Regions from separate parts of the Homo sapiens genome. Here region 2 is linked to region 1. Evidence: fine-mapped expression QTL. Tissue or cell type: whole blood. Region 1 holds a variant in brackets; the other region holds the start of a gene. All regions are shown on one strand. Distances are between the middles of the regions.

Evidence for each region. PIP is the estimated chance that this variant, and not a neighbour inherited with it, causes the effect.
Region 2: SHISA2 starts here. The variant in region 1 is fine-mapped to the expression of SHISA2 in whole blood (TOPMed, PIP 0.96).

Annotation. Positions count from the first base shown.
Region 1 is chr13:26,027,179-26,030,024 of GRCh38, forward strand. No RefSeq gene overlaps it. Among named protein-coding and RNA genes, the nearest start is that of SHISA2, 23 kb to the right of the region's middle. The variant C/G (reference allele first, on the strand shown) is at 1,616.
Region 2 is chr13:26,050,835-26,053,507 of GRCh38, forward strand. It overlaps SHISA2 (shisa family member 2), which reads right to left and starts at 1,182. Exons shown (of 2, transcript NM_001007538.2): 1 at 1-1,182. The coding sequence starts at 141. LINC00415 (long intergenic non-protein coding RNA 415) reads right to left here. Exons shown (of 2, transcript NR_146971.1): 2 at 1,442-1,838.

The sequences.
Region 1 (2,846 bases):
ACAAATTCATAAACTTTGTTAAAATATTACGAATTTTTTTTTTTACACGGAGTTTCACTCTTGTCGCCCAGGCTGGAGTGCAGTGGCACGATCTTGGCTCACTGCAACCTCTGCCTCTCGGGTTCAAGTGATTCTCCTGCCTCAGCCTCCCGAGTAGCTGGGATTACAGGCGCCCGCCACCACACCTGGCTAATTTTTTGTATTTTAGTAAAGACAGGATTTCACCATGTTGGCCAGGCTGGTCTTGAACTCCTGGCCTCAAGTAATCCAACCACCTCAGCCTCCCAAAGTGCTGGGATTACAGGCGCGAGCCACCACACCTGGCCAGTGTTACTGTATTTGATGTGTAGCCCACGACAATTCTTCCAGTGTGGCCCAGGGAAGCCAGAAGATCAGACACCCCTGGATGTATGGCAGAGCAACAGGGCATGTGACGTGGGGCTCCTCTGCCTCTGATATCTTCCACCTCATTTTGTCCCACACGTGAGTCTTTTGAGGGAACTCTCCAGTGCTGGTTGGAATGCCAAGGAGATAATGTTAACTGGGGCTATAGATGAGGCTCTGGAACTTGATTACCAGAGGGGGACAAAAATAAAACCCTTCCACCTACTAAAGCTACAAGCACCAAGCACATCCAGTCCAGCTCAAAAGCATTAAGCTTTCATTTATTAAAAGTAGGCCATGCACGTAAATAAGATGATTTAAAATTCTAAAATTCTTGAGGGTTGGTCTCAAAGCTCCATCTTCAATCTTCAGCTGTTTGTCTCTCTCTACAATGAACTGTTGTTGACTTAAGATTCCAGAGCAATGGATATTTGAAGAAAGGGTGCGCAGGTAATCGTTAAAGCAACAGCGTTGACCTGAACCTTGGATTTGAATTGTCTGCCCCAGGAGTTTCTATATCACTGTCACTAGATAGTTGTCAAAATTTAATGCTACAGGTACTCTCTCCTCTACTCTAAAAAAATGGGTTTTGATTTGAAATATTCTAAATTGCTGAGAAACCCTTCCTGATTTTCCCCCCAATTTTTGTTGTTGTTGTTGAGATGGAGTCTCACTCTGTCACCCAGGCTGGAGTGCAGTGGCGCCATCTCTGCTTACTGCAGCCTCTGCCTCTTGAGTTCAAGTGATTCTCCTGCCTCAGCCTCCTGAGTAGCTGGGACTACAGGCACCACCACTGCCCCCAGCTAATTTTTGTATATTTAGTAGAGACGGGGTTTCACCATGTTGGCCAGGCTGGTCTCTAACTTCTGACCTCGTGATCTGCCCGCCTCGGCCTCCCAAACTGCTGGGATTATAGGGATGAGCCACCGCACCCGACCTTCCCCCAACTTTTAAAACTGTGGTGTATGATTAAAAGCTCTTATGCCTGGCAGGGCGCAGTGGCTGACACCTGTAATCCCAGCACTTTGGGAGGTCAAGGCAGGCAGATCACAAGGTCAGGAGTTTGAGACCAGCCTGGCCAATATGGTGAAACCCCGTCTCTACTAAAAATACAAAAATTAGCCTGGTGTGGTGGCACATACTTGTAGTCCCAGCTACTCAGGAGGCTGAGGCAGAAGAATCGCTTGAACCCAGGAGGTGGAGGTTGCAGTGAGCTGAGATCGCGCCACTG[C/G]ACTCCAGCCTAAGCGACAGAGCAAGATTCCGTCTCAAAAAAAAAAAAAGCGGGGTGGGGGAGGCTCTTACGCCAACCTAACACATCTTGCCCTGTAGCTGGGAGGCCAGATGGTTGTTGCTTGTCGTTGTTGCTTCCCGAGTGGCCTTGAATGGAGGGTATGACTAGCTGTTAGGAGCTGAAAGAGAACAGCCCAGTAGCCACAAACAAAGCTGTTAAGCTCACTTTTTTTCCCTTCCCAGTGTCCTTAAGAGGAGCTGCCTGCAAATTACTCACAAAGATGGCTGCAGGAAAAGCCCTTGAATTTGTTTCAGTATTACATATAAATTGCATGTGGTTGCAGAGAATGAGATTGGGAGGCCCTTATTCAAGAAACTGCCTCCAAGCAATGTTTTTAATACTTTAGCTGGAAAATGTCTTCATTCAATCTCACTTCCCGATTTATATGATGAAAAACCCCCCTGTAATGCACAGCAGAGAGCTAAGGGATGCTCCACAGAAGCACCTGTCCTTGTGAGTGAGGGAAAACTATTCAGACAGACAGGATGCTTTTGCATTTGTGTGCATGAGTACACACATGCATACGTACCTAGTAGTTCTATGGGAAAAAATGAAGTAAACAACTGTACAGAAATGCAAAAGAAAAAAATTCACTTTTAACTTTGAGAATTTGGCAAAGCAGCTCCAAAAGTGCCACGGCAGGTATGTAAGGGCTTAACCCAAGTCTTGTTTTAGGAGACAAGAGATAACCCATTCTCTGGAAACTGTGTGTGCTAAAGGGAAAATGCTCTGGGCCTTTTCAGTCCCAGCTGAACAGCCAGCTGGATGTTTGTCTGAGAACCAGGGGGCTTTCTTCTAAAATTGCTGAGGCTCCTGTTCCCAAGGAGAGGCCTCAACTGGTGGGCAGAGGCAGGGGAGCAGGGGGCCTTGCAGTTAGAACATGGGAAGCCGGACTTGCTAGCGATCTGGAATCTCACCATCCGAGGGAGCTTCAGCTTTGGGGCCTCTGCCATGCTCTTACGTGCTGCTCTTGTGAATACAAGCTGACTTCCAGACACTGGAGAGGTAGTGGCCAACCAACCAAAGTCCCTTTCCTCATGGAGCTTACATTCTAGTGGGAGAGACAGACAGTAAAGGAAAATGTAATGTGATATCATGTCCTACAGTGTAGGTGGTAATGTAAGCACAGGGCTAGATTCTGTGGCTCCCAGTGGAGAGTTTAGTCTTAACA
Region 2 (2,673 bases), 24 kb after region 1:
GACGCCCTGCGCGTCCAGCCAGCCGTGGCAGTACTCGCCGCTGGCCCTCGCCCCCGCCGCCAGCAGCGCAGCCAGCAGCAGCTGCAGGAGCGAAGCGGCGTTCCAGGATGAGGAGACGGACGAGCGGCGAGCGCCCCACATGGCACCACCCTGGGCGCGGACAGCGCGTCTCCAGAGAGCGCAGGACGGTCTCCGAGAAGTCGTGGCCCCGGCGACCCCCGGGCCTCGTCACTGACTGTCCCGCGGCGCTTTCCGCGCGGGCCACTCCCCTCTGCCGCGACGCCCAGGAGGCGACGACGCCGGGCCCTAGGTCCAGGAGCTCCTAAGCCATCCCCGTCCTCAGCCGGTGGCCCGGTCCCCTTAGGGACTGCCTTATGAGTTGCACTCGCTGATGGAAATCTCGGGATGCAGTCAGAAGGCCCCCGGGGCTGTCGTCCGGAAGCCTCTGGAGGTTTCACTGGCAACCGGACCCTCCCTGAGCATCCCCGAAGGGATGCTCACTCGAGCCGAATGACCGCTGGGCGCGCCGCCGCGGACCTGGAGCCAGGGCTCTGCGCAGGGTTTAAGCCTCAGGGTCCCGCGCGCGAATCAGGGCCCGTCTCCCCTCCTTTATTCCCTCCTCGGGCGGGTAGAAGGGGCGAAGGCGGGCAGTGCACGCAAGGCTCTGGGCAGCAAGTGACGCAGCCGGCCGCGCTCAGCCTCCTCTGCCCCGAACTTGGTCCGCATGGCTCCGGCCGGGCCGCCCGGGCAGCCCACGGGGGTGCAGCCCCGACGCTCCACTCGGCGGGGCCGACGGCCAATCTTCCCAGCACGTCGCCGAGGGAGCGCTCCTGACCCCGGGAACGTCCAGGACGCAGGCGAGGGTCCTGCGCGCCCCCAGCCGCAGTCCCGGGAGCCTGCCCAGCTGGCGGCGGCCGCGGCTGCTGCTGGGCGCGGATCCAGGCGGGCGGCTCGCCCCGGTTCCCCTTCTCCGCCTCCCCGGCTGCAGCGCGGTCCCACAGGAGCCCGGCAGCCTCCGGCCGGCTCTCCCTCTCCCGGTCGCTGCCTCGCCCTCGGGAGGTGTGCGCACCGATGGAAGCCTCCCACGGAAGTTTCTTTCCTCCGGGCTACGGGAGAAGCCGAGCGCAGCAGCCGCCCACAGCCTCGCCTCGCCCCGCCCGGCGCCAGACCAGCTCCGACTCCGCTCGCTGCCGCGCTGAGCCGCGCTCTTATAGAGGCCGGCGGCTCCCCGGCGCGCATGCGCGCTGCGCGGCTCCCCCCCACCCCCGACCTCAGGGACGCCCGCGGGCGCCGGGCAGCCCCTCACTTTCCTACCCCGGGCAAGGAGAAAGGTGTGGCCAAGGGCGGGGTCTGCCTGCTGGAATAGGCGCGGGAGGAAACCCAACCTAAGCAATCCAGGCCTCGCTAACACAAATAACAATAATAACGGAAGAAACTCAACTTGCTTTGTGAAGATCTTTGGCATTCAACATTCGGTTCGATTCTGCAAACTTCTCAAGGGATTATGATTACTTTCCACTCTGCAGATCATAAAATCGCCACTCAGATGAACTCTCTCGGCTTCCAGCAGCTGATGTCCTGGCCACGGTTGGTCCCAGGCCCTGTGCAGGAAGAGCACCGATGTTTGTGGCAGGGTTCACACGCCTAGGGCTGTGTTTGGTGGACTGGAGGCCTCCACCACAAGGTGGAACGGAGAGAGTTCAGCAAAGATGTCACACATTCGGCCACGGTGTGGATGATCTGTGTCCCTTTTTCTTTCTATATTTGGGTGTGGTGATTTATCGGATTCCAGCAGGAAAGTGCCTCCGTCCAACATGTGGCCTTAGTGGTTTAGACAGCTGCAGTCAGGAAGAAAACAAGGTTCAGACAGACCAGAAATTCAGCTTTGATGAAGGAGAAATTAATAGCTTCTCTCTTGCAGAAGCTGGAACAACAGGTGCTGATGTTATTAAAGCAGCAGTGCTTATTTTTAAAGGAACGAATGCCCCTTCCCACACCGTCTGGGAGTCAGCAGACCTGAATTCTAGACCCAGCCCTACTAGCAGGGAATCACTGCGTTTTTCTGGTCTCAGTTTCTTCATCTATAAAGTGGAGCATAGGATGTGACGATCACTAAGGTCCCTTTCAAGTCCATGACTTCAGAACACAGGCAGTTTTATTCACAGCAAAGACACTCAGGTTCAAGCAGCCATTGGATGCTTGTGTATGCCTGGTTAATGTGAAGATTCAGACATTGTTGATTATTCTTCCACTTGCCCCAACAATGTCAAATCCAAGAAAAAAAACCCTACCCTATGTCCCTGCTCCCCAACACACACCTTATTCTTTTCACTAAACCTCTCTCCAAGCATTGCACTTTGTTTTCTTGCAGTTTTTTGGTTGTGTATCGTTTTAAGCTACACAAAATTATATACTTTAAATGCACTATTCACCAAATGTCTTAAGCTAGTAAGCTAAAAAAAATTTCAATGTCAAGAAATCATTCATTCAAGAAATACACGCCATGCACTTACAGTGTACTGTGCTCTGTGCTGGGTACTGGGACTCATCAAGAAGCCAGACAGCATGGCCATTTCCTTCAAATAGGGCCTAAAGTCTCCAGGGTAAAATACAGAAATCAGACAAAAAGACAAAGAACTGAATAAGCAAAGAGAATGCAAGTATGATCAAAGC